4 separate regions of the Homo sapiens genome follow, and regions 1, 3 and 4 are each linked to region 2. The links come from fine-mapping of genetic effects on gene expression. A gene starts in region 2. Each other region holds a variant in brackets. All regions are shown on one strand. Distances are from middle to middle. Region 1 overlaps USF2 (upstream transcription factor 2, c-fos interacting). Region 2 holds the start of LSR (lipolysis stimulated lipoprotein receptor). Region 3 has its middle 16 kb from the start of KRTDAP. Region 4 holds the start of FAM187B (family with sequence similarity 187 member B).

Region 1 (8,102 bases), 25 kb before region 2:
CCCCAGACCTGCCGTTCCCTTGAAAAGGCTGGGGCCCACCCACCAGCAAACCCCTCTGGCTTCTCTGGGCTGTGGCCGCATGCTGCTGACTGGCCTCTCCCTGCCTCCAGTGCCTCCCACTCAGGCCTGAGTGACAAACCCTCCGATGGATGCGGACTCTCCTTCTCCCACCGTGACCTCTCTTCCCTGGCCCCTTCCATCCTTGTGCTCCCTCTTTCCTCCAAAACCAATAGCCCAAGATCAGTGCTTGCTATGGAGCACGGTCCAGGCCCTGCACTGGGCTCAGCGAGTGCTTGCTCCCCTATTACTATCGCGGTGCGCTGAACCTTCCCACCAAAGACAACCACACCCGCCTTTGGGAACTCTGGCCAAAAGCAGCAGCGGAGCTGAGAGTCCAGGCCTGGAGGCACCGCTGGCGCAGTCCCCAGCAGAGCGCTCCTCGCCCAGGGGTCTGTGGAGGAACTCGGCAGGCGGCCTCGTTTCAGCCTCTGCCCTCCCACAGTCCTCTCGAGAGCTGGGCGCCGGCTGCAGGTACATCCTCTCCAGAGCAAGCTTACTTCTTACACACCTACTCCCCGCCCTACTATGTGCCAGGCCCTCCGCCAGGCTGGGGTCCAGGGTGGAAGCAGCCCCGGTGCGCCCCATGGGCACTCGCAGCACCACTGTGGGCAAGTGGCACTAACCCCATTGCATTCGTGTCATCACTGAAGATGGTACAAAGTGCCTCGGGAACGCCAGGCGCCGAGCCATGGCCTCTGCATGGGAATGGGGGTGGGATGAATCCTCAGAGATCCAGGAAACATTCGGGCTGGTTTCTGAGAGAAAGACTCTAAGGCAGGCAGCTGGGAAGATCCCAGAAATGGTGGCCTGAAAACCATTTCAGGGTATGCAGGGGTGGGAAAAGGTTGTAAAGATCGGTTGTCAAGGCCTTGTGTGCTCTGCTCGCAGGTCAGGACCGCATCTCCTCCTCCTCCAGAGTCCCAGGCCCTTGAATCCAGGCCCTGACATTAGCAGGCGGTAATGCTGTCCAGCCTGTGGCTTCGGAAGACCATCATGGCACATTTGAAATACAGGAAGACCCATTAGGACCAAGGCCACGTTCATTCCACAGAAGCACTTCAGTTACTCCATAGGAAACTTAAAATTCAGAAGCTGGGTGGGGTGGCTCACGCCTGTAATCCCAGCACTTTGGGAGGGTGGATCACATGAGGCCAGGAGTTTGAGACCAGCCTGGCCAACATGGCGAAACCCCGGCTCTACTAAAAATGCAAAAATTAGCCAGGCATAGCAGTGCATGCCTATAATCCCAGCGACTTGGGAGGCTGAAGCACGAGAATTGCTTGAACCCAAGAGGTGGAGGTTGTAGTGAGCCGAGACCACATCATTGCACACCAGCTTGGGTGACAGAGCGAGACTCTGTCTCAAAAAAAAAAAAAAAAAAAAGAGAAAATTCAGAAGCGAAACCTGCCAGGACTGAAGGAAGAAATGGACAAATCCACAAATATAGTGAGAGACATGGACATCTTTCTCATTGATTGGTGGAACAAGTAAACAACAACAACAAAAATCAGAATAGAAAGCCTGAACACTCAACCAGCCTGACCTCACTGACCTGGGGGGACATTCTGCCTGACAGCAGCAGACACCTGTCCTCGTCAATGCCCCAGAAGCTTCCGCCAAGCTAGGACACATTCGGGCCCGTCGGGTAAGTCTCATCGAATTTCAAGGAACTGAAATCATACAGAGTATGTTCTCTGACCATAACAGAACTAAATTAAAAATCAATAACAAAAAGATATCTGAAAAACCCACAAATATTTGGAAATTAAGCAACCTGCCTCCAAATAACAGAAAGGTCAAAGAAGAAATCACAAGGAAAATTGGAAAACACTTTAAACTGAATGATAACAAAAACAACATATCCCAGTGGGATGTAGCTAAAGTGATGCTGGAGTGAACTGGCAACTCTAAATGTTGTTAAGCAAAGAGAAAGGTTAAGAATCATCTCAATCCCTGCTGTGAAACATTAATCCTGTAAAATAAAGATTTTAGTAGAAAATTGGAAAAAAAAAAAAAAAAAGAATTACCTTAAAAAGCTGGGGTTGGGGTGTGCCAGGGAAGCTAAAGCATGAAACCTAGCAAATTGAATCCAAAGTGAGTAGAAGGGGCCGGGTGCAGTGGCTCACTCCTGTAATCCCAGCACTTTGGGAGGCTGAGGCAGGTGGATAACCTGAGGCCAGGAGTTCGAGACCAGCCTGGCCAACATGGTGAAACCCCGTCTCTACCAAAAATACAAAAACTAGCTAGGTGTGGCAGCGGGCACCTGTAGTCCCAGCTACTTGGGAGACTGAGGCAGGAGAATCACTTGAACCGGGGAGGCAGAGGTTGTAGTAAGCTGAGATTGCGCCACTGTGACAGAGCGAGATTCCATCTCAAAACAAAACAACAAACAAACAAAAAACCAAGTGAGTAGAAGCATGAATTAGTAACATTAAGAGTAGAAATCAATGAAACGGAAAAAGCAATCTAATCTGGCACCTAAAAATCAGATTTCACATAAGTCTCGATTTCTAGCTTCTCAGAGTTTCTGGCAACAGTGGCCCTAGATTCTGACAGGGCAGCAAGGGGAAGGCACTGGGCAAGGGCCACCCTTCAGGCAGCGCACACATGCCCCAGATCACTGGGGGCCCCCCACAACCTTTCCTATCTTTTTCTGACACAAGGTCTGGGTCTGTTGCTCAGGCTGGAGGGTAATCTCAGCTCACTGCAACCTCTGTCTCCCGGACTCAAGCCATCTTCCCACCACAGGTTCCCAAGTAGCTGGGACTGTTACAGGCATGTACCACCAGGCCTGGCTAATTTTTAATTTTTTTGGTAGAGACAGGGTTTTGTCACATTGCCTAGGATGGTCTCAAACTCCTGGGCTCAAGTGATCCGTCCGTCTTGGCCAAAATGTAATCCCAAAAGTGCTGGGATTCCGGGCGGGAGCCACCACACCCAGCCACACACCCCTTCCTGAGATGCCAAGTGCACCTCCCTCCCTCAGGCCCCTGCAGGCATTTGAGTCTGTGACTCTGGGATAAGCTCCTGCAGTACCAAGAAGTGGTGGGAAGGAGGGAAAAAGAAGTGAGAGAAGCGGATCTGAAATCACCACAGAAGAGAAACTTGGGGTTTGTGGCCATAAGGGAAGAAGAGGGCAGAGTTGAAAGCGGCTCTGGTCTTAGTTTCTGGCTTGGGCAGCTGTGACAGGGGTAGCTTTTGCTGCTCTGCAAAGAAGAAGGTTGCATGAAAGCCTTTGGAGACGGGAGATGGCACATTCTCTTTTGGGCGAGTTGAGTTTGAGGCATTACAGGGATGTCCAGAGACAGAAATCT[C/T]GAATAGGTAGTTCAAAACGTGGGGCTGGAGTTGCAGTGAAAGGAAGGGAATGGATGGAAACACAGTTCCTTGCATTACCAGGAGCCAGGTGGTGGGCGAAGCCTGGGAGGACATCAAGGAACAGTCCTCAACTTTTTGTGAGTCACACACTCTTCTGCAGCAAAGAAAAAAGAGGAACACCTACAAGGGGGAACAGAGTTTGGGGGATACTGACCAAGAGCTTCCGAGCCCATCGCTGGGCCTCACAAGTCATACACCTGAGGCCGACGGGAGGGGCCGGACCTTATGAAACACCAGCAAGACTGGGTGTGGCAGCTCAGGCCTGTAGCCGAGGCCGGAGGACTGCCTGAGGCCAGAAGTTCAAGACGAGCCTGGGCAGCATAGCAAGACCTCCACTCTACAGATAAAAAAAAATTACCCCATGTGATGACGCCTGCCTGTGGTCCCAGCCACTCAGAAGCCTGAGGTGTGAGGATCGCTTGAGCCTGGGAGGTCAAGGCTGCAGTGAGCTGTGATTGTGCCACTGTACTCCAGCCTGGGTGACAGAGTGAGACCCCCTTCTCAAAAAAAAAGAAACACTCGCAGCCAAAGCAGTTTCTCAAGCTTGTCCACTATGACAAATCACCTGAAGAGCTGATGGAAAACACAGATTCCCCGGCACCCCCATCTACTCACTTGGAACTGGGACAGCCCTGGAAATTTCACTGTTAACAGTGGGGTAGGAAAGGCAAAGATCACAGGAGAATCAGAGAGGATGGAGGAGAAAGGAAGATTCCAGAAAGGAACAGAGGGAAACAGGCAGCATCAGATGCTTGGAGCCCAGACAGCAAAGGAGGCCAGTGGATGTGGCAATGGGGTCACCACGGGTGACCGGAAGTGGAGCTGTTTTGGTAGAGCCATGAGCCAGATGGCTGAGGGTACTGGGAGGATGAGCAGATTGGGGCAGATGCTCTGCAAGTCAGGAAAGCGGAGACAGGACGGAGCTGGAGAAGTGGGCAGGTGATGAAGACTGCTTCACAGGGTGAGAAAGTTTCAAGGCTGCCTGGAGTCAGATTAACTAAGGGAGAGGCGGGGGTGAGAGTGGGGTGGGAGGGTTCTGAGTCCTCTCTTCGCCTTACTGTGTGGCCACCAAGACTCACTGCATCCCCACCAGGTGCCCGGGGCGGCTGTGCTTCCACCATTTCACAGAGGGAAGACAGGTACGGAGATTAAGAACCACCCTGACGCCCCACCACAGGTAAGTCGTGGGGCTGGGGCTGCTCTGGGGGCCCCTCAAACTCACTGCATCTCAAAACCAAGCTCAGATGCACCCCTTCCCTTCCAAGCATGGAGGGGAGTTCAGCACGAAACCCTTATTCTCCAGCCTTGGAGTCCTCCCCACATTTCCCCCAACCCCTGCCCTGTCTCAGGCCTGACAGTCGTATGGTCTCCTACCTCCCAGCCCCTTCCCACCACTCTTGCCAACAGCCTCCACAACCCAAACCCCTCTGCTGGCTTCTCATCACCCTGGAATAAAACCACAGGAGCCCAGACAGCCACACTGGGGACTTCTTCCAAGGTCCTCCACCATCTGGCCTGGGCAGCCCCCTCCACTGCGCCAACTTCCTCTTTCCTTTCCTGAATTCTGCTCTTCTGCAGACACACCATGGCGGCCCTGGCTCAGGGCCTGGCCTGTGTTCTAGCTCTTCCCTCTGCCCGGGACTCTCCTGAGGTTCTCAACAGGCCCCTTCCCTCAGGTCGCTTCAGGGATCTGCTTCAATGTCACCTCTCGAAGAGCCCTTCAGAGCACACTACCATGCCGCCATCACCCGCCACCTTCTTCCCCAGCTTTCCTCTCCTGCCTGTGACTGCCTGCACTGCCTGATGCGGCTGTGTGACTCCCATCTCTCCCACCAGAACGCGCACAGAGAGCTGAGACCTTGTCTGTCCTATCATCTGCTGCATTGCCATATCTGAGGACGCAAAAGGGGGGCTGGTCGTAGTATGCACGCGCTGAATGAACGCCTGAACTCAGGGAGGAGCTGCTCAGAACACAACTACCTGGGCCACAGACCCCAGTCCCATCACCACCTTTAGGACTCAGCATTCAGCCCCTCACTCGGGCATTCGAGGCCTTCCCGATCTTCCCTCCTGAGGCATTCTAAATGGAACTTCTCCCACAACCAAACCAGCACCCCACAAAGTAACCTGACCCACACTCCCCTCTCCCTAGGGAAGCGTCACCCCAGCCCACCCCCCATCAATGTCCCATGAGACCCATGAGACATAAGCCCTCAGGCCTTTGAGCCTCCCTGACGCTCCAGGCCAGACTCCAGACCTGGCACAGGGCCTGTGCCGCTCAGCCCAGAACCCACGGGCAGTAAATATTTGTTGAATGATGGTTGTTTGGGTGTAAGCACTCTCCTGGCACTTGCACAGTGCTGTGCCCACTGCAGTGGCTACTGACAGGCGGGGCGGGACAGTGCTGAAGGCCAAATGACCTGAGGTGAGACCTGGTGTTTCTGGAAAGGGCAGGATGCTCCGGCCTTAGGTAGCCAGAGGCAGAACTTCATGCAGTTTCTCCCTCAGATGTGCTCCCTGGGGGAACAGACCTACTTCTGGAGGCCAGGCAGGCATGGGAGTGCGGGATGTGAGCATGACAGCTGCCACGTGGAAAGGTCAGCCCACGTGAGCCCGGTCAGCCCCATTTTTCAAGTGGGGCAGGCAATCCGTATGGGAGTGTGAAGTCCACCATCTTAGATGTGGGCCATGAATTCAAGATCACCAGCCGGGTCAACAAATGGCCAGTTCCAATTCACACTCCCTGTCCCTCTACTTCTGACACTGTACTCTCCCCTCGTTGCTCACTTTCTACCTTTACAGCGTCCAGCAAAGCCCTCTGGAGCACTTGTGGCCTGCCCAGGAGTGGCTTCTCTCTCTGTCACTCCACACTCCAGGGCTGGCTGAGCCTGTGAGGGTGGTGGTCAGGGGGACCCGGAGCCACACCTTGTCCTCACCTTCGTTGTGCTGGGCTCTTCTCCTCTCATCTCGGGGTGTTCTGGTTCCATCAATTTTTCTACAAGAGGAGGAAAAAAAAAGGGGGCATGTATTATCGCAGAGCTGTTTGCCCAAGCATCTGCTAAGTATTAGATTTGAAAATTATCTTTGCAAGGTAAATCCATCTGCAAAAACAAAAGACATGATACTTTATGTGCACTAGAGCAGCAGAAACAGGCAAAGAAAAAAAACATTACACCATGTGCCCACTTCATGCTAACTGCCCAGCTTCTACTCCAGAAACCCCTCTTCCTTCCATTTCAACACCAGGCCCTCCAGGTGTCCCCTGCACATACGGAGAGTAAGGGTGTGTCCGGGGGGCGATCGTCCTCTGTGTTCCTGTCTGAAGCACATCCTGGGGCGTCATCATGACGTAGAACTGGCCTGCAGGGAGAGTGGGGGGTTAGTGGCAAGGCAGGGTGAAGTCAGAACTGGCTGGGGGGGCTTCCCTCCCTGCTGGGCCCGTTGCCTCCCCCACCTGCCAATCTGACTTCTACTCCTCACCTCCAGCCTGCAAGCTCTGGTCTGTGGTCTGTACGGACACAGCCGTAGTATCTCCCACACTGGACGCTGGGAAATAGGCAAATCGTGCCTCCCCGCTGACAGCCTCGGCCGCCGGACTGCCACCATTGCTGAAGGGATTTTGGATCACAGCCTGGGGAGTAGGAGGGCAGAGGCTACCCTTAGCTTTCTCTGTTCCTCCATCCCGTCCCCTCATTGCTGTGCTTGGGGTTTACTGCATTCTCTGCAATTAACAGGAGTGGGGACTCCTTCTGCGTGTAGCATTCTGTCCTGTGTTTCAAACAGCCCTGGAACATGGCGGGAGGTCAGCGATCACTTGCTGAGCAAATCCGTTTCGCACTCTAAGAAACTTTCCTCTTAAGACACATCATTCCCATTTTGCGGGAAAAAAAAATTCCAAGAGCACTGTCCCCAGGTTTCACGGTGCACAACAGGGATCTGGCCCCATGCAGCCTGAGGCCTGAAGGCAGCATCCGCTGGGCGACACCTGCCCCACCCCCGGGGCTCCCCAAGAGCAGAGCCAGTGTCCCCTCTCCACTCCCTCCCCCCCCCACCCAGGGGTGGCAGGGCACCTACCAGCGGGAAGGGCGCTGCAGGACCTGGGGGCACAGAGGCAGCGGCGGGGCCCGGGCGCTGGGCTGCCCCGTCCACACCCACCTGGGTCACAGCCTGCTGCCCCCCCGCGAAGGCAGCGGTGGACACGACGCTGACGGCGCCAGCTGTGTCGCCCTGGCCGTCCAGCTGACCATCAGTCACCTGGACTACGCGGTATGTCACCTGCAGGGGGCGGCAGAGCGGCGAGGCCGGCGCTGGGGCCAGGTCCGAGCCTTCCCGGCGCGCCCGCCCGCCCGCCCGTTCGCCCTCGCGGCCCGCCGCTCACCTGTCCTCCATTTGTCTCTGTGCGGAACTGGTACTGGATGTTGTGGTCGCCGAACGCCGCCTGCTGGACGCTGGTGATGGCCACCGCTGTCTGCTCCTCCGCTCCTGGGCCGTCCCCGCCTGGGGCCGAGGAGGGTCGGGGCACGGTCAGGGCCGCGCCGAGCGCCCCCAGCCCTCCCCGGGCGCGGCCGGCCCGGCAAGCACTCACCTTCCTGCAGCTCGACGCCCTCCTCCGCCTCGGGTCCCTTGTCGTGGCTGCCAGGGGCACAGGAGGGAGCAGGGTCAGCGCG
Region 2 (8,097 bases):
TCTTTTTTTTTTTTTTTTTTTTTGAGACAGAGTCTCACTCTGTCGCCCAGACTGCAGTACAGTGGTGCGATCTCAGCTCACTGCAACCTCTGCCTCCTGGGTTCAAGCGATTCTCATGCCTCAGCCTCCTGAGTAGCTGGGATTACAGGCATGTGCCACCATGCCTGGCTAATCTTTGTATTTTTAGTAGAGACGGGGTTTCACCATGTTGGCCAGGCTGGTCTGGAACTCCTGACCTCAGGTGATCCACCCACCTTGGCCTCCCAAAGTGCTGAGATTACAGACGTGAGCCACCGTGCCCAGACTTTGAAATTCTCATACTCTTTCTTTATCTGCTTATTTACTGCCAGTCTCACTCCACCAGAATGTCATCTCCTTGACGACAGAAACTTCAGCCATCCCAATCACCTCTATCCCCAGCACCAACGACACATAGTCGATGCTTGATAAATACCAAATGAATGAATGAATGACTGCCCCTTACTTAGTCCCAACAGGCACATCCTATCAGGAGGCAGCATTACAGTTAAGAACAAGGGGCCGGGCGCGGTGGCTCACGCCTGTAATCCCAGCACTTTGGGAGGCCGAGGCGGGCGGATCACGAGGTCAGGAGATCGAGACCATCCCGGCTAAAACGGTGAAACCCCGTCTCTACTAAAAATACAAAAAATTAGCCGGGCGTAGTGGCGGGCGCCTGTAGTCCCAGCTACTTGGGAGGCTGAGGCAGGAGAATGGCGTGAACCCGGGAGGCGGAGCTTGCAGTGAGCCGAGATCCCGCCACTGCACTCCAGCCTGGGCGACAGAGCGAGACTCCGTCTCAAAAAAAAAGAACAAGGTTCTCAGGGCTGCCTGGGTTCAAACCCCAGCTCCAGACTTTGACTTCCTATGCACCCATTTGAACAAGGTAACCTCTCTGTGCCTCAGCTGTCAGGAGGGTAGAGGAGAGGACTCAATGGGAGAATATGTGTGCAGTTCCTGGCATGTCACAGGCTTTCTCCATTAAGCTCTCTTGCCCCTGCAGTTCACTCCTGCCATCTCCTCTGTGAGTCCTCTGCGGACCACCCTAGGCAAGCAAAGGGATTAGGAGCTTGGCCACTAGACCCAAAGTGGCTGAGTTAGAATCCCAGCCCCGTTACCAGCTATGACACTAGGCAAGTCACTTTCTCTCTCTGGGCCTCTGTAAGATGACAATGATAGAATCTATTCAATTACTGTGTGGTCTGAGTTAATCCTTGGGAACCTGGATGAGAGCTTAGCACACAGTAGACCCTTTATAAGTTGTTACTTAGATAAATTTTACTTCTTACTGCTCGTGTTATTAATGATTATAGAACAAACCCTGGCCTCTTCTCTCCGTTACCCAGTTTTCTTTATCTTCAAGGACTTGAGAGTGTGTGTCGTGTTTGTCTCTCTCACTGCAATGTGGGCTCCACGAGGGAAGTGGTTTGATGATTTTGTTAACAGCTGTATTCCCAGGGCCCAGAACAGCACCTGGTATATGACAGGTACTCAAAAAATCTTCGTTATTAAATTAAAGAATGGAAGGATTAGCAGAAGGAAGAATAGTAGAATAGAATCGCTCCCTTTAGGCTGGGTATGGTGTCTCTCAGCACTTTGCGAGGCCAAGGCGGGCAGATCATTTGAGGTCAGGAGTTTGAGACCAGCCTGGCCAACATGGTGAAACCCCATCTCTACTAAAAATACAAAAATTAACTGGGCGTGGTGGCACGCACCTGGAGTCCCAGCTACTCGGGAGGCTGAGGCAAGAGAATTGCTTGAACCTGGGAGGTGGAGGTTGCAGTGAGCTGAGATCGCACCACTGCACTCCAGCCTGGAGTCCAGAGCAAGACTCCATCTTCAAAAAAAAAAAAAAAAAGAATTGCTCCCTTCAATGGTCCTTTCAGACACTGGCACTCAAGAGCTTTCAGATGGGGACTCCAGGTCCCGCACAAGGACGCCAGTCCCACCACCCGGGCAAGCCCAGCCTCATCCCCCTGCCCTGCCCAACATACTTCCGGTGATGGTAATCCTCCGGCCCTGGTAGTAATCTCCCAGGGTCACAGCGTTGCCCTGCTTGGTGGCCACGACCCTGACGGTGCGCACGCTGTCCTGGCACTCAACGTAGGGGTTGTAGCCTGGGTTCCCGGCTGCCAGCTGGGCATTGAGCTGGTTGTCGACGCTGGCCGGGGAGAAGGCATCGGCGATGCGGTCCCGGCAGAAAGACTTGTACTTCCAGATGACGATGGGTTGCGTGGGGGTCGAGGTCATCTGGTAGGTACAGGGCAGGGTCACAGGCTGGAAGAGGATCACCACGTGGTAGGGGTTGGACACGGTCACCTGGATGGCCCTGGCAGGAGCTGAGGGCAAGAGGAGAGACAGCAAGGGTTGCTGTGAGCTCAGGGAGGTGCTTCAACAGGAACGCCACCTGTCACCAGCTTGACACTCGCAAGTATGTGGTTTACAGAGTGCCTGGCACACATTGTTCCTTAATTGCCAGGACCAGTGAGGTAGCCACGATAATCATGCCCATTTTATAGACCCGTGGGGCTGAAGTGGCAGGTGCACGGTGACACGGCCAGTTTCCTTGGACTCGCCCGCCATCCCTCTTCCCAGCCTGTGGCCTCTGAACCACACCAGTCCCCTCTTCCCTTTGCCATTCACCCACAACAAGGGGCCTCTGTGTGGCCTGGGCAGGCAAGCCCAGATGGCCATGTTGATGCCCCCAGCGCCCAAGGCCCCACTTCAAAACCGACTACGAAGGATTCCAGGTTACCCGGGGCCTTTTGAATTTGGAGGGAAAACCATGGAGTTGTTTGCCTGAACTGCTTTGCCATGGAGGGACTAAAGCCCCCACAATATCTCCATCAGCCTCCCACCACCTCACCCTACTCTAAAGTCATTTCAAATGACTGAACCAAAAGTGTCTCGGGAAAGACCTCATCACCACCCAAATATCCCATCCAGGTGAAAGCCTGCCAGCAGAAGTCGGTTTCAAGTCCGTAAATCCATCCCACCAGACTCTTACGCACGTATAATCCGGAGCCCGCGGGAGGTGGGTGGGGTGCGGGGGATGGGGAGTCCCCAGTCCCACACCCACCCGAGGCCTAGGCATTGTTCCTTCGTCTCTGTCCCTCTAGGAAGCGTCTGATCCAGCCCTCCCGTGCCCTCTCCCCGTTACTCCAAAACTTAGAAATCCCCGGGTGCGCCCAAGTCCCATCCCGGCTTTTCTTTTCCCAGAGATCGGGCGGTCTTCCACTCCCTCCCCACAAAGAGTTCCATTCTCCCTGCCGCTCCGGGTCTCACCGTCCAGGGAGTTTCACTTCCTGCTATCTTCCAGATAAGGGCGCGGGGAGCGCTCCCCGGCACAAATGGGGAATTCCTCTCACTCCCGCGCGCAACAGATCGCCCAAGACCCAGGGGATCGGAAGGTCCCAGCCTCTGAGACCCCCGCTTCCCGCTTCCCGCCGCCTCCAACTCCATCCATCCCCCTCTACAGTTCCCTCCGGCGTTCCGCAGCGTCAGAGGCCCCGTGCCCCGTACCTGTGCACCAGGTGCTAAGCAGAAGCCACACGAAGACGACCGCGTCCCGGCCTGCGGCGGCCGGGTGGGAGCCCAGCCCTCTGGAGAGCCCGCCGGCCAACAGCGCCATCGCGGCCGTCTGGGCGCGTCTGGCCCGCGCGTCCCTTCCAAAGTACCTTAGGGGGCGCGGCGCGCACCAAGGCCAGGAGGGGTGCACGCTCCTCCCCTTCCCACTTCCGTTCCTTGTCCCTACTCCAAGTCCGTCCTGTTGCATTCTGGAAGTTTTAATGAGCGTAAACGACGTGGACAAAGGGCATGCTTTCAGATATGGGGGAGAAAGGTGCTTGACCCGCCGCGGTCCTCCGAGCCACACTCCACCCGCTGCGCGCTCCGGTGAATGGTTCGGCCCAGGTACACAAGGGTGGGAGCCGAGGGCTGGGCTTAGGGGTGAGCGGCGGGGAGGGGTTCCTCTGCCTCCCTCCCCGGAAGTGGGCTGACCCAGGTGCGCTCCGTCCCCCAGGGCCCGAACCAAGTGACTGGCCCGCTGGGAGGGCGCCTGCGGACCACAGGTCCCTTCCGGCCCCCATCTGCTCCGGCCAAACCAAGCGCACCGAGATCCATGCAACCGAGACCCACTTGGAGCGATTCACCTGTTGAGATAGGGCGGGTCCCGCCGCGCACCTGTTCCCTCCCTGCCCAAACCCCTCTCCCCGGCTGGCGATGGACCCGCCTAGGTGCGCCCTGCCGGGAGGAGCGAGTCTAAGCAAAGTCCTGGCTGGGAGAGGCTTGTTGGTGGCGCCTGACTTCTCCACTTCCACTGGGGTTCCTCCGGACCGGGTGGAGGGGGGGCGCTTCGGGCCTCCTGTGTCTCCCAGTTAGATGACCTGAGGAACCCTCTAAAGTCCCCGGAAGGGAAGCTCTGCCCCCTCAGGGATGCCCAAGGGGAATCAGGGCCAGGAAAAGTTGGAATTCCACTTCGGAAGTTTTCGCCACCTCCCCCACCCGTTCCCAACTTGTGGTTCGGCCCCTGGGCATCCCTAGCCCCCGGGTCAGCCCTCCGGAAATTCTGGCTCTTAAAGGGGCCGAGCGAAGGCGCGGGGCTTGGGACCGGTTTCCGCTTAGGAATTCCCGGAACGAGCCACCTGCGACCGAGGGCGGGGGCGCGGCGCGGCGATCAGCCTGCGCAGCGCTGGGCGTGACTCTGCTGTCTCCAGGTGGCGGCGAGGGAAAGCGCATCCTGGGGGAACCCTGGGCGCTTCCTCGCGTTAGACTCCCCCAGGTTGCCAACTGGCCAGTGGCTGGTTTCGGTACCCAGGCGTGCTTTGTTCTACTGGCCCTGTTAAAACTCAAGCCAGATCACGTCCACCTGCTCACAGCCCTCCTGTGGCTCCTCCTCACTCTCAGCAGAAACTGACCTTCCCCCTCTTATCTCACCTCCTCCCACTCTCTCTGGCTTACTCAGCTTCGGACACCCTGGCCTCCTCGCTGTTTCCAACTATACTTCTCACAGTCCTCAGAGCCATCGCCCGTGCTACTCCCTCTGCCAGAACACCCTTCCCGCAGATGTCCACATGATCTTCCTCCTCCTGTAGGACACCATTGCAGTGACACCTTCCCTGGCCACTTTTTATAAAATTTCAACCCGTTCACGTCCCTTCATCGTTTAAAAAAATATTTTTATGATAAAATATGCAAACTATAATATTTATCGCTTTAACCACTTCAAGTGTAAAATTCAGTGGCATTAAGTATATTCACAATGTCGTGTACCAATCACCACTCTTTATCCCCGAAACTGTTTCATCATCCCCAACATAAACTCTGTGACCATTAAACAGTAACTCCCCATTCCCTGCTACCTGTGCCCCTAGTAATTTCTATTCTACTTTGCTTACCAAATTGCCCATTCTAGGTGCCTCATATAAGTGGAATCGTCTAACATTTGTCCTGTGTCTAGTTTATTTCACAAAGAATAATGTTTTCAAGGTCCATCCATGTTGTAGTATGTCGAAGCCATGTAGCATGCAGTAAGATCAAAATTTCTTTTTACAGCGGACTAGTGTACCATTGTATGTATATGCTACGTTTTATTTATCCATTCATTTGTGGATGGACCTAGGTTGTTTCTACCTTTTGACTATTGTAAATAGTGCAGCTGTGAACACTGGTGTACAAATATCTGCTTTCATTTCTTTTGAATATATGCCTAAGAATGGAATTGCTGGGTGACTTGGTAGTTCTATTTTTAACCTTTTGAGGAACTGCCAAACTGTTTTCCCCAATGACTGCACTATTGTACATTCCCACCAGCAATGCACGGAGGATTCCAATTTCTCCACATCCCCACCAAAACTTATTATCCATTTTCTTGATTATGGCCATCCTGGTTAGTGTGAAGTGGCATCTCATTGTGGTTGTAATCTGCATTTCCCCAATGACTAACGATGTTGAGCATATTTCCACGAATTTATTGTCCATTAGTATATCTTCTTTGGAGAAGTGTCTATTCAAGTACTTTGCCCATTTTTGAATTGGGTTGTTTGTTTTTTTGTTGTCAAGTTGTAGGAGTTCTATATATATTTTGAATATTAATCCCTTGTTAGATATATGATCTGCAAATATTTTCTTCCATTCTCCAGGTTTTTTCACTTTCTTGATAGTGTCCTTTGGTGCACAAAAGTTCTTAATTTGATGAAGTTCAATTTACCTACTATTTTTTCTTCCTTGTACTTTTGGTATCCTATTTATGCAGTTGTTGCCAAGTCCAATGTGATGAAGATTTTCAACAATATTTTCTTCTAAGAGTTTTATAGTTTTAACTCTTAAATTGAGTCTTTGAGCCACTTTATTTTATTTCATTTTATTTTTTGAGACTGAGTCTCACTTTGTCGCCCAGGTTGGAGTGCAGTGGTGTGATCTCCGCTTACTGCAACCTCCACCTGCCGGGTTCAACCGATTCTCATGCCTCAGCCTCCCGAGTATTTGGGATTACAGGTGCATGCCACCACACTGGGTTAATTTTTGTATTTTTAGAAGAGATGGGGTTTCACCATGTTGGCCAGGCTGGTCTCGAACTCCTGACCTCAAGTAATCTACCTGCCTTGGCTTCCCAAAGTGCTCACATAGGTGTGAGCCACTGCACCCGGCCTGGGCCATTTTAATTTTAGTATGTGGTAGAAGGGTCCAACTTCATTTTTTTGCATATGGATATTCAGTTTTCCCTCTACCATTTGTTGAAAACACTGTCCTTTTCCCATTAAGTGGTCTTGGCTTCCTTGTCAAAAATCAATTAATCATATATGTGAGGGTTTGTTTCTCGGTTCTGTATTCTATTTCATTGATCTATACGCCTATCCTTATGCAAGTACCATATGTTTTAATTACTATAGCTCTGTAGTAAGTTCACAGATGGAAAGTGTGAGTCCTCTAACTTTATTCTTCTCTTTCAGTATTGTTTTGGTTATTGGGGGCCCCTTAAAACTCCATATGAATTTGAGGATCTGCTTCCATTTCTTTGGGAAAAGACGTTGGAATTTTGATCAGCATTGTGTTGAATCTGTAGATTGTTTTGGGTAGTATTGACATTTTTAATGTTAAGTCTTTCTATCCATGAACACATCTTGCCATTTATGCCATTTATTTAGATACTTGTTAATTTATTTTATCAATCTTTTTTTTTTTTTTTTTTTTTTTTTGAGACTGAGTCTTGCTCTGTCACCCAGGCTGGAGTGCAGTGGCCCAATCTCAGCTCACTGCAAGCTCCGCCTCCCAGGTTCACGCCATTCTCCTGCCTCAGCCTCCTGAGTAGCTGGGACTACAGGCGCCCACCACCACGCCCGGCTAATTTTTTGTAGTTTTAGTAGAGATGGGGTTTCATCGTGTTAGCCAGGATGGTCTCGATCTCCTGACCTCGTGATCCGCCCGCCTCGGCCTTCCAAAGTGCTGGGATTACAGGCTTGAGCCACCGTGCCAGGCCTTATTTTAGCAATCTTTTGTCATTTTCAGTGTACAAGTCTTTCACCTCATTGGTTAGATTTATTCCTAAGTATTTAATTGTTTTAGATGCTGTTGTAAATGAAATTGTTTTCTCAATTTCCTCTTCGGATTGTTCAGTGCTGGTGCATAGAAACATGACTGATTTTTGTGTGTTGATCTGGTACCCTGCAACTTGTTTATTAACTGTAGTAGCTGTCTTGTGAATTCTTTTGGATTTTCTATACATAGATCGTGTCATCTGTGAATAGAGATAGTTTTACTGCTTTCTTTCCAATCTGAATGACTTTTATTTCCTTTTTCTGTCTGATAGCTCTGGGTGGAACTTCCAATACAGTGTTCAATAGCCATGGTGAAAATGGCCATCTTTGTCTTACTCCTGATCTTAGGGGGAAAGCTTTCAATCTTTCACCATTGAGTATGATGATAGCTGTGAGTTTTTCATAAATACCCTTTATCACATTGAGGAATTTTCCCTGTATGATTAGTTTTCTGTTTTTTTTTTTTTAATCATGAAGGTGTGTTGAATTTTGTCAAATACCTTTTCTGTATTAATTCAGATGATCATGTGTGTGTTTTTTACCT
Region 3 (8,102 bases), 230 kb before region 2:
ACCCGTACCTGCATTATCCCTGCTTTAACTGGTGTAATTTGGCCTTCACTTGCTTTATAACCTACTGTTTCATTTAAGACTTTGCTTGAAAAAAAAAATGTTTCCATTCCTTAAAAAATGTTTGGAAACCACTGCTAAGTATCCGCTGGAGGCATTTAAGGTGGTACAACTTAGCGGTTAGAATATGAGTTATAAAATCAGTCAGACCTGATTTCAAATTCTGTTCCTACCACTTTACTAGCTACGTGACCTCTGGGTGGCTACTCTGTCAGGGCCAAAGTTTCATCATTTGTAAAGTGGGAATAATAGCAATACTTCACAAGGGTTTAGAAAACCTCAGTAAATGTTAGCCTAGATTTTTTCATGTTAATAAAAGGTAGCTGTTATTATTATGCTATAAAACTCCACTTAGATAATGACTCAGATAGAGTCATACTTAGAGAAATAATATTTGCAACTGTATTCACTTGCTCTCTTCTGACAGATGAGGAAACTGAGGCCCATAAAGATGAAGTGACTTTCCTAAGAGCACCCACAGAAGAAATAGCAGAGCCAGGCTTTCAACTCAGGTTCTATTAGATTTCAGAGCCCTAGAATTTTTAACTATTTTAGTTTCTTGTGTTGGCTGGGTGCAGTGGTTCACATCTATAATCCTAGTGCTTTGGGAGGCCAAGGCAGGTGGATCATTTGAGGCCAAGAGTTCAAGACCAGCCTCTGCAAGATAGTGAGACCCCTGTTTCTCCAAAAAATCATGAAAAAATTAGCCAGGCATGGTGGTGCATGCTTGTAGCCCCAGCTACTTGGGAGGCTGAGGTGAGAGGATCACTTAGCCCAAGGAGTTCAAGGCTACAGTGAGCTATGATGGCAACACTACACTCCAGTCTGAACCAGACCCTGGCTTAAAAAAAAAAAAAAAAAGCGGGGGGGAGGGGCAGGGGTGGGCATGGTGGCTCATGCCTGTAATCCCAGCACTTTGGGAGGCTGAGGCAGGTGGATCACGAGGTCAGGTGTCCAAGACCAGCCTGGCCAACATAGTGAAACCCTGTGTCTACTAAAAATACAAAAAATTAGCTGGGTGTAGTGGCAGGCACCTGTAATCGCAGCTACTCAGGAGGCTGAGGCAGGAGAATCGCTTGAACCCGGTGGAGGTTGCAGTGAGCTGAGAGCCAAGATCATGCTACTGAACTCCAGCCTGGGCGATAGAGCGAGACTCTGTCTCAAAAAAAAAAAACAATGGATGTGTAAAATAGGGTGGACCACATGGTGGAATGGTAGCTGTCCAGCAATAAAATAAGAGCGCAGTCCGGGTGTGGTGGCTCACATCTGAAATCCCAGCACTTTGGGAGGCTGAGGTGGGCAGACCAAGAGGTCAGGAGTTCAAGACCAGCCTGACCAACATGGTAAAACCCTATCTCTACTAAAAATACAAAAATTAGCCAGGCGTGGTGGCATGTGTCTGTAATCTCAGCTACTCAGGAGGCTAATGTAGGAGAATGGTGTGAACCCAGGAGGCGGAGGTTTCAGTGAGCCGAGATTACACCACTGCACTCCAGTCTGGGCAACAGAGCAAGGCTCCGTCTTAAATAATTAAAAAAAAAAAACAATTGAGGAATGTGTACACAGGAGTTTGTTAATATGGTTTCTCATATCTTTATGTGTGTTTGAAATACTTCATAGCATAACATTTTATTTTATTTATTTTTGACACTGAATCTCACACTGTCACTCAGGCCAGAGTGCAGTGACACAAACATAGCTCACTGTAGCTTCGACCTCCTGGGCTCAAGCAATCCTCCTGCCTCAGCCTTCTGTGTAGCTGGGACTTCAAGTGCATGCCAACACGCCTGACTAATTTTTAAAATTTTTTGTAGAGATGGGGTCTCACTATGTTGTCCAGGCTGGTCCTGAACTCCTGGGCTCAACTCATCCTCCTGCCTCAGCCTTCCAAAGTGTTGGGATTATAGTAGTGAGCCACCATGCCCAGCCTAACATAATATTTTAAGGCAACCACAATAAAGACACCTTAACTTCAATCTGTCCAAAGCCATTCAGCTGTGAGGGACAAGGTTGAGAATTCTGGTGGCTGACGGGGTGCTCTTCATGTTACCTCCTAAACATAGTCCCTCCTGAGAGCCTGATTTACTTCATTACAAACCCCAACAATGGCGGCACTGTGGAGGCGGCCCGAGAACTTCAACAGGGTGAAATGGCCTCAGATGCTCCTGAGAAATGAACACAGCACCCCGCCCTTGATGACTATCATCCCATTAAGACCTCCCACTACATTTTCTGACACCCAACAGACCAACTGACCACAACATTCCTGGGTTCTCCTCCCCTAAATCAATGACAACCCAAACAAACAAAAATCCCCATGGCTCTCCCATGGAAAGATGCCTCATTTCCCTCACCTGCACCTGAGTCTACTTCCCAGGCTGGTGACCTGAGGTAATGCTCCTTAGCGCCCCCTACAGCAAGTGACCGCTTTTGTATTTAGCCTCCTACTGAGCCTCTATCACCCCTCCCCGAAAGCCCTTTTTATGTTAAATCAGTTCATGCTCTCCCTCTATTCTCTACTCTCTACCCTCCCATGATTTCCCATTACTTCGTAATAAAACCCCATAGATTTTACTATGGGCTTCATCTCCTACCTCCCCCTCCCATCTTGATCACTTTGCTCCAGCCCTCTGCACCCCATTCCAGCCTCCTCAAGGGCTCTTCAAAAGGCCACGTTCCCTCTGCCTGCATGACTCATTCCCTTCTTCCCTTGCTCCCTCACTTCATCCAGGTCTCTGTGGCAATGACACCTCCTCCAAGAGGCCTTGCCAGTCTGATTATTCAACGTAATCTTGTTTTATTTGTTGTTCTAGCCAGAAACCCTCGCACATTATGAAAAACCTCACTCCCCATACAGAGCACCCCTCATCACTCATTCCCAATGTAGCATCAGGGATGGAGCCTGGATGTCCCTCCAGCACTGGTGATCTGATGAGAAAATCTCTCAGGACGTCCAGTTATCACAGATTCCTCTTGTGGCTTATTCTCAGGGTCATCCTGCTTACTAATTCCTAACAGAACATCTGGGGCCCCTCTCCAATAGGGGCAGAAACTAGGAAGACTTTCAATTTTCACTCCTTAAGTTATCTCGAGATGAGATTTTTCAGAGTCACAGAGGTAGGCTAACTGGATTGGGACCACGAAGTGTCATTCACTGTACAACTTAAAAACTGTGTCTCATTGGCCAGGTGCAGTGGCTCGCACCTGTAATGCCAGCACTTCGGGAGGCCGAGGTGGGTGGATCACCTGAGGTCAGGAGTTCGACACCAGCCTGGCCAACATGAGGAAACCCTGTCTCTACTAAAAACACAAAAATTAGCTCGGCATGGTGGCACGTGCCTGGAGCTACTCAGGAGGCTGAGA[T/C]AGGAGAATCGCTTGAATCCAAGAGGCGGAGGTTGCAGTGAGCCGAGATCGTGCCACTACACTCCAGTGTGGGCGACAGAGCAAGACGCCATCTCAAAAAAAAAAAAATTATCTCTCATTAACAGGTCACCTCGTTATTTCTTATAAATCCGATCATCTGCACAACTGTATTGACCTGAGTATATTTTTGTATCATTCATTCAATGTAAATATTTAGAACACAGCACAATTTTTGGAAAAAATTTTGCTGTTGCATCTGTTCATTTCTCAGCATTTCATTCTCAGTATTCAGTTTCTCAATGAAACCTCCCAAAACCTTACTGGACTTCAGAGAAGCCTTGTCCGGCTGCCTTCCCAAGAAGACCCTGCCTAGGAATAAAATTTCCTCTCCTTGAGGCCCAAATTCACAGTTCTTACTATTTGTGGATAAGTCAATTTTCAGTTCCAACTTGATTTCCAGTTCAATGCTGACTCCTCTGGTCCTCTTGGCTCCATGGTGTGGGCAGGATCCAGAGCTTCAAAATTTACATCCATCACTCTTCTCAGCAGGAACACCTCAGCCCCAACTTCTGCTTCCCTTCTGTCCTCATGCACTTCCAGTCGGGGCTAATGTGCGCATGCGTCCTGGTTCTGGACGCTCTTTTTTTTTTTTGAGATGGAATTTCACTCTTGTTGCCCAGGCTGGAGTGCAATGGTGCAATCTCAACTCCCGGGTTCAAGCGATTCTCCTGCCTCAGCCTCCTGAGTAGCTGGGATTACAGGCATGCACCACCATGCCCGGCTAATTTTGTATTTTTAGTAGAGACAGGGTTTTTCCATGTTGGTCAGGCTGGTCTCGAACTCCTGACCTCAAGTGATCCACTCACCTCGGCCTCCCAAAGTGTTGGGATTACAGGCATGAGCCACCGCTCCTGGCCCGGACGCTCTCTTTTTACCGTCCACTTCTTCTAACACGCTCCCTGAGGTGCCTCAGCCCCTGGGAGGCATTCCTGGCCTTTTGTCACACCTGTTTTGTTTGAGCCACTGCACCGATAGGCACCTTGAGGCCTCGCGGGAGGACGGCCCTCCCTTCCCTGTGTGCAGGCCCTGAAGGGAGCACCACATGGAGACAGGTACAGAAAAGGCGGGAAAGCAGAGATGCAGTGTCTGGGGCTTTGAGGCTGGGTCTTGAAGGGCAAGCCCGTGAGTCCCCGAATAGCGACGAAGCCGCTGAGCTTCTCAGAACCCAGAAAAGGTATAGAGGAGGAGCTCACATGCACACATACACACCCCAATCCATCCATCTGTCATCTATTCATATCTTTATTAACCAATTACATGTTGGGATGATAATCCTCTGAACATGTTGGTTTAAATAAAATATATTAATTTCGTCTGTTTCTTTTTACTTCTTTTAATTTGATTATTAGACAATTAAAAATTTTTAAATGGTGCCTGGAGCTACTCGGGAGGCTGAGGCAGGAGAATCGCTTGAATCCAAGAGGCTTGGATTTTTTAAAAAATAGCTTACATTACATTTCTTTCTTTTAATTTTTTAAAGTTATTTTATTTTTTTTTATTTTTTTGAGACAGAGTTTCGCTCTTGACACCCAGGCTGGAGTGCAATGGTACCATCTCTGCTCACTGTAACCTCCACCTCCTGGGTTCAAGTGATTCTCCTGTCTCAGCCTCCTGAGTAGCTGAGATTACGAGCGCCAGCCACCACGCCCAGCTAATGTTTGTATTTTTAGTAAAGATGGGGTTTCACCATGTTGGTCAGGCTGGTCTCAAACTCCTGACTTCAGGTGATCCACCTGCTTTGGCCTCCCAGATTGCTGGGATTACAGGCGTGAGCCACCACCCCCGGCCCCTTTTAATTTTTGTAGAGACAGAGTCTTGCTATGTTGTCCAGGCTGATCTCGAACTGGTGACCTCAAGGGTCATTCTTGCCTCAACCTCCCAAATTGCTGGGATTACAGGCATGAGCCACTGTGCCTGGCCTTGGCTTATATTGTATATCTATTGGACAATGTTGGGGTTGATAAAAAGGATTCATTGCAAAGCTCCTAACCCAGTGACTGGCTCATAATAGATATCTGATGGATTCTCTAAACATATTTTTACAGATTGCTTCCCTGTGAAAAGGTTTCTGCCCCATGGAGCTCAGCCTTAACTTGGGAGACACACAACAGTTGAGTGAACAAGCAAAGGTACTTTCAGATTATGATAAATAAGTGCCATAAAGGAAATAAAACAGCAGGAATTGGCAGCATTTAATTCAGGTGGCCGAGAGGGCCCCTCTGAGCTGGTGGTCTTTGAACTGAGCCCTGAATGACTGACAAAAGGAGCAGGCTCTGGATGGCTTGGGCAGGGCTCAAGGTTGTGGGAACAACCCCTGCAAAAGCTCTAAGGCAGCAATGAGACTTCTATGATTGAGGTAGGGAGAAGAGGTCTTGTGCTTGGGAAAAGGGTAGTTGGAAATGTACCTGCAGAGGTCAAGGTGTGGTGGGTGGCAGGTCACAGGGGCCTTGTAGGCCATGGTCACTGGTATTTGAAATGTGACAGGAAACTTTTGCAGCTGTCTCCACCCAGTTCCCGGTAGACTTAAGCCCTAAGACTCTAAGGCATCCATTGCATGTAATGAATTAAGTTATCTCCTACTGTAGTAAGTAATGGTATTAGCTAGTAGCATCCTTGGGAAAATCAAGAAAACAATCACTCAAACCATTCTCTGCAGAGCTTAATTGTCTCCCAAAACCCTAAGAAAGGTTGCAGGAGAGATATTTAGCAAAAGAGTTGAAAAAGATCACTCTGACTGCAATGTAGAGAGTGGATGGGGTGGGGGCAAGAGGCAGGAATGGAGGGAGGGCGTTCAGTAGGAAGTCTTTCAAACTGGCCTGGAAGAGAGACGGCGGTGGCTTCCATGGGGCCTGCAGTAGTCAGATAGTGAGAAGTGAACATGTATTTTGAAAACTGAAGCCAACTAGAACCAATGGATTAGATATGGAGGAAGAAGAAGGAGGAGTCAAGGATGGCTACTGAGATTTTGGCCTGAGCCACTGGATGGATGCCGGTGGTTTGGGTTCTAGTCTCAATTCTGCTGGATGACCCTGGGCAAACAAGTGACTTCTCTCTGCTGACGCTCAGTTTCCTCTTCTGTAAAACGGGGATTGCCATGGAGATGTGATGAGATTATACATGAAATGCACAGGGCTGCCACATAGCAAGCACGTAAACTGCTGTTATTATCATTGTCATCATTCCTGCGCCGCTAACATACTGATGTAGCTACACGCATGGGCTCAGGAACCAGTCAGGCCTAAGTTGAGTTCCTAAGTTGTTATGTGACCTTAGGGAGGTCACTTCACATTCCTGAGCCTCAGGGTCCTCCTCTGTGAAGGGAGTTAATGAAAATACCCTCCCTCCAGACCCAGTTGTGAGGATTCAGTGACGTCCTGGACGTGAAGTGCTTAGCCCTCAGTGTAGCTCACAGTAGTTGGTCAGTTAACAGGACCTAAACGCTAGAGTAATTTGAGTTTTCTTCTCTGTGTATGTTTGGTGAACAGTGTTGATGAAAAGAGTCAAACTGTAAAATATTTTGAAGAGATTTATTATGAGTGACCATGGCCCCGTGACACAGCCCCCAGGAGGTCCTGAGAACATTTGCCCAAGGTGGTCAGGGTGCAGCTTGGTTTTATAATTTTAGGTAGGCATGAAACATCAATCAAATACATTTTTTTTTTCTTTTGAGACGGAGTCTCGCTCTGTCCCCCGGGCTGGAGTGCAGTGGCGCGATCTCGGCTCACTGCAAGCCTCGCCTCCTAGGTTCACGCCATTCTCCTGCCCCAGCGTCCCGAATAGTTGGGACTACAGGCGCCCGCCACCACACCTGGCTAATTTTTTTTTTTTGTATTTTTAGTAGAGACGGGGTTTTGCCATGTTAGCCAGGATGATCTCAATCTCCTGACCTCGTGATCTGCCCGCCTTGGCCTCGCAAAGTGCTGGGATTACAGGCGTGAGCCACAATGCCTGGCCTCAAATACATTTAAGAAATTAATTGGTTTGGTCCAGAAAGATGGGACAATTCAAAGTGGGGCAGGGCTTCCAGGCTATAGGTAAATTTAAACATTTGCTGGTTGACAATTGATTGAGTTTGTCTAAAGACCTGGGATTGACAGAAAGGATATGTTCAGGTTAAAAGATTGTGGAGACCAAGGTTCTTTTGAAGTCTTACAGTGGCTGCCCTTAGAGACAATAGATGACAAATGTTTCCTATTCAGATCTTTAAAAGGTGCTAGACTCTTAGTTAATCTCTTCAGGATTGGGAGGGCCTGGAAGAAAAAGATCTAGCTATGTTGATAGAGATTCTTTACAGATGCAAATTTTCCCCACAAAGGACAGCTTTGCAGGGCCACTTCAAAATATGATTTTGGAGTAAAATATTTTGACTTTCTTCTTTATCAAGTAACGTTATGCCACAGTAAGACTGGAAAGTAAGTCACGATATATAGGGTTAAATAAAACCCAACTGATGAGAATTTATGGTTTTTAGGGCACGATTCTCTGGGCCCCTTAGATAGGAATTTGGGCAGGATAAAAAATCAGAGCTTAGTCCTCAGCAGAATCAACTTAAAACCAGGCTTTATGTGTTTATTATGAAATAATATATGCTCATGGGAAAAATGTAAACAGTACAGAATTAT
Region 4 (8,102 bases), 20 kb after region 2:
GGTTACCTTCCAACAGAAAACCGGGCTCCGTCTCCCAGCCCATAAGCCTTCATGTTGGTTCTGCTAAGGAAAAGGTCTCCTCACTGGCTTGCTGAGATGCGCATGCAGGAAGAATTCCCTGGTGTTTCCTCTGAGTGTGCCCTGGGCAGGTGATGTTAGGGACACAGCAATGACCTAGTTCTTGTCTGCACAGGCTTCTGATATTCAGGGGGAGGCCAAATGTAGAATCTAGAGACCGAGCTACTCAGGCCCATGGGCTCATGACAATGTAGACACTGATGTTTCTGTCTCCTGATTGGACCCTGGATACAATTTATCTATCCATCCTTGTCCCAATGCCACAGTGTCTTTGGTTTTCTTTTTTTTTTTTCCTTTTATTTGTTTATTTATTTTTGAGATGGAGTCTCCCTCTGTTGCCCAGGCTGAAGTGCAATGGCGCAATCTCAGCTTACTGCAACCTCCATCTCCCAAATTCAAGCGATTCTCCTGCCTCAGCCTCCCAAGTAGCTGGGATTGCAGGCATCCGCAACCATGCCCGGCTAATTCTTATATTTTTAGTAGAGAAGGGGTTGGCCAGGCTGGTTTTGAACCCCTGACCTCAAGTGATTCTGCCCTCCTTGGCCTCCCAAGTGCTGAGATTACAGGCACAAGCCACTGCACCCAGCCCACAGTGTCTTTTTATACCTTTCAATAAGTCACAATATGTGGTAGTGTTTCCCAACTTTGTTCTTCAAGATTGTCTTGGTTATTCTTGGCCCATTATATACAAATTTTGGAATCGGTTTGTAGTTTCCACCCCAAAACTCTTATTTTTTTTTAATTGGGACTTTATTGAATCTAAAGATAAATTTGGGGTAAATCAATATATATTCAATATTTAGTCTTCCAATCCGTGAATGTGGCAAATACTTCCATTGTTTAGTCTTTCTTTAATTTCTCCCAATAATGTGAAGTTATTAATGTAGAGGACTCACATATCTTTTATTATATTTATTCCTAGGTATTTAATTTTTTCATACTATCCTATAGTAATCTTTTAAGTTTCATCTTTTAATTCTTTGTTGCTGGTATATAAATCATATTTAATATATGACCTTATATCTAATTTTTTGCTTGTATCTTACCTCCAGTAAAATGCTGAATGGAAAAGTTGATGGCAGAAATACTTGTGTTATTCTTAGTATTTTACTATGAAGTATAATTTAGCCCTAGGTGTTTTTGTTTGTTTGTTTGTTTTTTGTTTTTTTTTTGAGACAGGGTCTCACTCTGTTGCCCAGGCTGGAGTGCAATGGCGCAATCTCAGTTCACTGCAACCTTCGCCTCCTGGGTTCAAATGATTCTCCTGCCTCAGCCTCCCAAGTAGCTGGGACTACAGGCACCCACCATCACACCCGGCTAATTTTTGTATTTTTAGTAGAGATAGGGTTTCGCCATGTTACCCTAACTGGTCTCGAACTCCTGACTTCAGGTGATCCACCCGCCTCGGCCTTCCAAAGTGCTGGGATTACAGGTGTGAGCCACTGTACCCGGCCTGTCCTAGGTTTTTAATAGAAACACTTTATCTTCTTAGAAAATTTCCTTTTGTTCCTAGTTTGCCAAAAGTTTTGAGCCATAAATGAATGTTGAGTTTTATCAGATGCATTCTCTGTATCTACTGAGATAATAATATGGTTTTTCTCCTTTATTCTGTTAATGTGGTGAATTACATTAATTGATGTGCAAATATAACCCAAATTTGCCGTCCTGAAATAACCCAATTTGGTCTTTATATTTATCCTTGTGTAAAGAAAATCACTGGAATCAATTTGCAATATTTTCTTTGGGATAGTGTGTCTGTGTTGACAAAAGAGATTGACCTGAGGTTTTTCTTTGTTGTAATGTCCTTATAAGGTTTTGAGATAAGGTGATGCAAGTCTCATAGAAATCTTCCATCTTTTTCTATGTTGGGAAAAGTCTGGAAGATCATTTAATTTATTTATTTATTTATTTATTTATTTGAGGCAGTGTCTCTGTCACCCAGGCTGGAGTGCAGTGGCGCAATCTGCACTCACTGCAACCTCTGCCTCCTGGGTTCAAGCTATTCTTCTGCCTCGGCCACCTGAGTAGCTGGGATTACAGATGCCCGACACCATGCCTGGCTAATTTTTTGTATTTTTAGTAGAGATGGGGCTTCACCGTGTTGGCCAGGCTGGCCTCGAATTCCTGACCTCAAGTGATTCTCCCATCTTGGCCACCCAAAGTGCTGGCAAGTGCTGGCATTACAGGTGTGAGCCACCGCCTGAGAAGGTGTTTAGAAAAGGGGATGGAAGGAAAGGGAGCAACTGAGAAAAATATTTGTTGAAGATGTATTGAGTCATGCAGATGGCTGAGGGAAGAGACGGGGACCAGCATGTGCAATGGTTCTGGGGCAAGAGCCCCTCTGCCTGCCTGACAGATTCAGGGAACAGCGGGAGGCCAGCGTGGTTGGAGGGTAGGGAGTAGGGGGAAAGGTGCAGGAGGTCAGAACAGTAACCAGAGATAAATTTTTTTAAATTTTTATTATTTTTTTTGAGATGGAGTTTCACGCTTGTCACCCAGGCTGGAGTGCAGCGGTGCGATCTCGGCTCACTGCAACCTCCGTCTCCCAGGTTCAAGTGATTCTCCTGCCTCAGCCTCCTGAGTAGCTGGGATTACAGATGCCCGCCACCACACCCAGCTATTTAGTAGAGACGGGGTTTCACCACGTTGGCCAGGCTGGTCTTGAACTCCTGACCTCAGGTGATCCGCCCGCCTCAGCCTCCCAAAAGTGCTGGGATTACAGGCATGAGCCACCGAGCCCAGCCCGAGAGGATTTGTTTACTGCTTTATCCCCAGTGCTAAGAAGTGTGCCCAGAACATAGTAAGAGTTCAGGAAATATGTGTTGAGTGTTCACATGTGACACCTTCATGCTCTTATTTCATCCCTGGGAATGTAGTCTCACCCCTGGGAAAGGAAGCGGGGCAGGTAGTAGAGAAAACTCTGAATAGACAAATTAAGTTTGCTCCTTTCCCAGCAAAATGGAGGGCTTGGAATAGAAATTAAATATGGTCAGCGGGGCACAGTGGCTCACGCCTGTAATCCCAACACTTTGGGAGGCCAAGGTGGGAGGATGGCTTGAAGCCAGGAGTTCGAGACCAGCTTGGGCAACATAACAAGACCCCGTCTCTACAGAAAAAATTTTAAACTAGCTGGGCATGGTTAGCATGCACCTGAAGTCCCAGCTACTCAACAGGCTGAGGTGAGAGGATTACTTGATTCCAGGAGTTTGAGGCTGTAGTGAGCTGTGATTGCAGCACTGCCTTCCAGCCTGGGTAAAAGAGCGAGTCCTTGTCTGAAAAAAAAAAAAAAAAGAAAAACAGTGTTGTCAGCTTGTCACAAAACAAAAGGGGATGGTGACCTCACACACACATGTGGTAGCTGCAATTCATCCCACTGCCCAGGGCTGAGGCCAGAGTTCATGGGTGACCTCACAATGTTCGGGGTGGCACCAGCCCACTGCCACAGCCCCAGTCCACCATGCCACCCATGCTGTGGCTGCTGCTCCACTTTGCTGCCCCGGCACTGGGGTTCTACTTTTCCATCAGCTGCCCCAGTGGTAAGCAGTGCCAACAGGCCCTACTCTCAGGCAATGATATTCTCCTGTATTGCAACTCCTCGGGGGCGCACTGGTACTATTTATTCACACAAGGCAAGAAGGGCAGGCTCACCAGCCTCACCAATATTTCCAATATGGAAATAATGCCCGAGGGCAGCCTTCTCATTAAAGATCCATTGCCCTCCCAGACGGGCCTCTACCACTGCTGGAACAAGAATGGCCGCCAAGTGGTGCAGTATGAAATTGACTTTCAGGATGTCACCACCCTGCATATAACACACAAGGACCTGGGTCAGAGGCCCCTGCAGAACGAGACCCTGCATTTGGGCAGCAAACAGCTCATTTTTACCTGGTGGGAGCCCTGGCAGGACTGCAACCGCTGTGAGGAGCCGGGCGAGTGTAAACGCCTGGGGTACCGCTACATTGAGGAGCCTCTGGAGGAAGCCATGCCCTGCTGGCTCTATCTGGGAGAGGTGCTGGTGTG[G/A]TCTAGCCGCTTGCGGCCTGAGCTGCAGGTGGAAGCCTGCCACGTCCAGTGCACCAATAACACACAGTTAAGGGTGGATTACGTCATTTTTGACAACTTCAGGCTCGATGAGAAGACAGAATTTGTGTGGCTCGACTGTCCCTTAGGATCCATGTACAGGTGATGGAATCCCTGCCTCTGGCCCCTACCCAGATTCTTCCGGTCAGGGGATCCTTCCTGGTAATATGTGCAGAGGGATGAGTGGGCGTTCTTTGCAGTTCAGCCACGTAGTGGTCATCAGGACAGTGCCAGGCCCTGCTCTTAAACAGTCCGAGGGGGACACAGCCCAGGGTGGTGCGAGCCGGGATGGGAGAAGCCCAGGCAGACAGATGGGGCTGTGATGGGGGAAGCCCAGGAAGCTTAGGGGCTCCAACAGGCCCCTGCTTCATCTGGAAAGGTCAGTGAGACCTTGGAGGAGAGGCTGGTGCCCCCGGGGCTTCCCATCAAGGCCTGCCTCCCAGAACTCACACTCATCTTCTTACTTCCTGCCAGGAGCCTCTGGAAAATAGCCCCTTCCCCTCCTCTCCCCCAGTCCACCTGCCCCTTAATAAGAAATGCAGGCTGGGCGCGGTGGCTCATGCCTGTAATCCCAGCACTTTGGGAGGCCGAGGTGGGTGGATCACCTGAGGTCAGGAGTTCGAGACCAGCCTGGCCAACATGGTGAAACCCCGTCTCTACTAGAAATACAAAAATTAGCCAGGTATGGTGGCACGTGCCTGTAATCCCAGCTACTCAGGAGGCTGACGCAGGAGAATCACTTGAACCCGGGAGGCGGAGGTTGCAGTGAGCCGAGATCACACCACTGCACTCCAGCCTGGGCAACATCACGAGACAACTCTGACTCAAAAAACAAAAAAACAAAAAAACCCCAGAAATCCATTGTCTCACCCTTCTGGAGGCCGTAAGTCTGAAATCAAGGTGTCAGTAGAACCACGCTCCCTCTCAGTCCCTCTGAGTGAGCTGGGCAGAATCCTCCTTTTTTCTAGCTTCTGGATGCAGTCAGAGATCCCGGTCTTCTCTGGCTTGTGGCTGCTTCTCTCCAATGCCCGCCTCCATCATCACTTGGCATTCTTCCTGGGTGTCTGTGTCCCTGTCTCTCTTTTCCTTTTCTTAAAAGGACACCGGTCAGATGGGATTGAGGGCCCACCTTATTCCAATATGCTCTCATCTCAACTGATTATATCTGCAATGATCCAATTTCCAAATAATGTTACATTCTGAGGTTCTGGGAAGGACATGCATTTTGCGGGGGCCACTGTCTAACTCAGTGCAGAGGTCTTGCCAGCCCCTGGCCACACAGGGTCATTGTGATGTGTTAAGGGGACTAAAGACTGTAGAGTGCCTGCCATAGCATCCAATAAGAAGTTCCACAATGTACCTAGCTGGGAATGCAAGCTTTTATGATATTGTCTGTGGAATATCCTCTCTGTTCTTCCACCACGCTGGGTGTGTCGGTGCCTGATTCATTTCTCCACTAAACACGTGTTCACTGCATATTTATATGCCAAGCTCCATTCTAGGGACCTGGGAAACAGTGAAGAACACAACCAACGGAGATTCTTGCCCTTGTGGCGCATAAATATATAGTTTTATTATTATTATTGTTATTATTATTAGAGACAGGGTCTTGCTCTTTCACCCTGGCTGGAGTACAGTGGCACAATCACAGCTCACTGCAGCCTCAATTCCCCGGGCTCAGGTGATTCTCCCATCTCAGCCTCCACAGTAGCTGGGACTACAGACATGCACTACCACACCCGGCTAAGTTTTTAAGTTTTGTAGAGATGAGGTCTCACTTTGTTGCCCAGGCTGAGCCCAAACTCCTGGGCTCAAGTGATCCTCCCACATCGGCCTCCCAAAGTGCTGGGATTACAAACCTGAGCCACTGTGCCCGACCTATAGTATTTTGGATGGTGACGGAGCAGGAAGGGATGCTGGGAATAGGGGAGGTTAAAAGTGTCAAGTGGTGGGGTCAGGGAAGGCTCCTCTGAGAAGCTGCCATTTCAGCCCAGACTGAAAGGAGGCGAGGAAGCCCTGGGGACAGAGGGAACAGCCAGGGCCAAGACTGCACCCAGCATGTCAGAGGAACATCTAGGAGAGCAGCGTGGCTAGGCAGAGTGAGTAAAGGGGAGAGTGAAGGAGATGAGACCAGACAGGCAAAGGCAGGTGGACAAATCATTTAAGGAGTGCCCTTGCTAACTCCTCCAAATAACCTTATGAGGTACAATCATTACTCTCCATTTTTTTTGGTTTGTTGTTTTCTTTTTTGGGACAGGGTCTTGCTCTGTCACCCAGGCTGGAGTGCAGTGCTGTGACTGGCTCACTGCAGCCTCAACCTCCTGGGCTCAAGTAATCCTCCCACCTCAGCCTCCTGAGCAGCCAGGACCACAGGCGCATGTCAGCATGTCCAGCTAATTTTTTAAATTTTTGCAGACATGGGTTCTTGCTTTGTTGTCCAGGCTGGTTCTGAACTCCTGGGCTCAAGCCATCCTCCTTGCCTTTGCCTCTGAAAGTGTTGGGATTACAGGTGTGAGCCACCAAGCCTGGTCTAGACTCTTAGTTTTACATAAAGAAATGGAAGTTCAAAGAGCTGGAGGCATTTGCCCAGGTCACCCAGCCAGTAAGGGGTGGGGCCAGTAAGGGGTGGAGCCAGGAAGAGGGGAGCCAGTAAGGGGTGGGGCCAGTAACGGGTGGAGCCCTGGGAGCCCCCAGCTGTGCCTCCTCCACCCCACTGTTGACGGCTGCACAGTGCTCCGTGGGGGGTGGCGAGGAGGGGGACTGGGCGGTGCTTTATTTTCTGTTCCTCAGGGAGACGTCGGTCCCTCCTTTCTCCCTGGCCCTGCACCTGACCTTGTCCTCCTCGCAGGCCCGTCAACTGGCGTGCCAACGACACCCCCCTGACGTGGGAGAGCCAGCTCTCCGGCCAGGACTTCACCACCTTTCTGGACCCCTCCACCGGCGGCAGGCAGCTGCAGGTTTTCCAGCCGGCCGTCTACAAGTGCTTCGTGCAGCAGGAGCTCGTGGCCCAGTTCAAACCCGCCGCCAGTCTGGAGACGCTGGAGGCTCAGTGGAGAGAGAACGATGCCCAGTGGCGGGAGGCAAGGAAGGCCCTGCGGGGCAGGGCGGACTCCGTGCTCAAGGGGCTGAAGCTGGTGCTGCTCGTGGTCACCGTCCTGGCCCTGCTGGGGGCGCTGCTCAAGTGCATCCACCCTTCCCCGGGCAGGAGAAGCACACAGGTGCTGGTGGTGAAATAAAGCGAGCCCCCGGTGCACAAGCGGACCCGGCCTCCGGTTCTCTCTTAGCCACAGCCGCCCCTTCTGTCACTTCCGCCCCGGTGCCCCGTAGCCCAGGGTGACCGAGCTCTTCCCTGGGTCAGGTGCTGCTCTGTTAACTCATTAGTAATTTCCATAGAACAGATGAGGAAACTGAGGCTGGTGATTCTAGTTCAAACCAGGTTGCCTGTCCCAAGCCCTGTGTTCTTCAGAAGGAGGGAGAGATGGAACCAGGCCATTCTTGGGGTGTCTCCCTAAAGGTGGTAACTCATAGCCTCCTCACTCATCCCATTCCCCCAACTACAAGATGGGGGATATGAGCAGGACACCTCTAGGCTCCCCAGATCTGCCCTGGGCCCTGCTGTCTTTTCCTGCCCATCCCTTGCCCACCCTCCCCACTGTGCCCAGGCCTTCAGGCCCAGCCACCACTCCCCAAGTCAGAGGCACTGCCAGACACGCGCCACTTTTCCAGGCTCTTGTGGTGGAGTGAGGCCCCTCAGGCCCTTGGAAGGGGAGACAGGCCCTTTTGCTGGTACAAGGTGCCAGGCCTGGCTCAGCTGACCTGCAGGAATCACCAGGCCTGACTGTTCCCAGAAATCACACACTGTTCAGCAGAGTGCAAGAGTGAAAAATAATTCATGCCATTAAAATTCATTGCCCTAATAGTGCAGTGAAGCCATGACTGGACAGAGA

What was found.
Region 1: its variant is fine-mapped to the expression of LSR in left ventricle (GTEx, PIP 0.94).
Region 3: its variant is fine-mapped to the expression of LSR in CD4 T cells (BLUEPRINT, PIP 0.95).
Region 4: its variant is fine-mapped to the expression of LSR in subcutaneous fat (GTEx, PIP above 0.99). The same link has a PIP of 0.9 or more in lung and sigmoid colon.

What each region holds. Positions count from the first base shown.
Region 1 is chr19:35,269,411-35,277,512 of GRCh38, reverse strand. It overlaps USF2 (upstream transcription factor 2, c-fos interacting), which reads right to left. Exons shown (of 10, transcript NM_003367.4): 2 at 8,021-8,067; 3 at 7,814-7,932; 4 at 7,510-7,710; 5 at 6,916-7,066; 6 at 6,708-6,795; 7 at 6,372-6,430. Among named protein-coding and RNA genes, the nearest start is that of USF2, 4.5 kb to the right of the region's middle. RefSeq lists an enhancer at 6,456-7,195 and silencers at 7,483-7,802, 7,943-8,102. The variant C/T (reference allele first, on the strand shown) is at 3,375.
Region 2 is chr19:35,244,575-35,252,671 of GRCh38, reverse strand. LSR (lipolysis stimulated lipoprotein receptor) reads right to left here and starts at 3,670. Exons shown (of 10, transcript NM_205834.4): 1 at 3,541-3,670; 2 at 2,013-2,357. The coding sequence starts at 3,649. RefSeq lists silencers at 3,507-3,576, 3,987-4,066 and enhancers at 3,179-3,980, 3,981-4,783, 4,917-5,086.
Region 3 is chr19:35,470,730-35,478,831 of GRCh38, reverse strand. No RefSeq gene overlaps it. Among named protein-coding and RNA genes, the nearest start is that of KRTDAP, 16 kb to the left of the region's middle. RefSeq lists an enhancer at 7,410-7,983. The variant T/C (reference allele first, on the strand shown) is at 3,421.
Region 4 is chr19:35,224,114-35,232,215 of GRCh38, reverse strand. FAM187B (family with sequence similarity 187 member B) reads left to right here and starts at 3,477. Exons shown (of 2, transcript NM_152481.2): 1 at 3,477-4,257; 2 at 7,004-7,416. The coding sequence starts at 3,536. The coding sequence ends at 7,391. The variant G/A (reference allele first, on the strand shown) is at 4,099.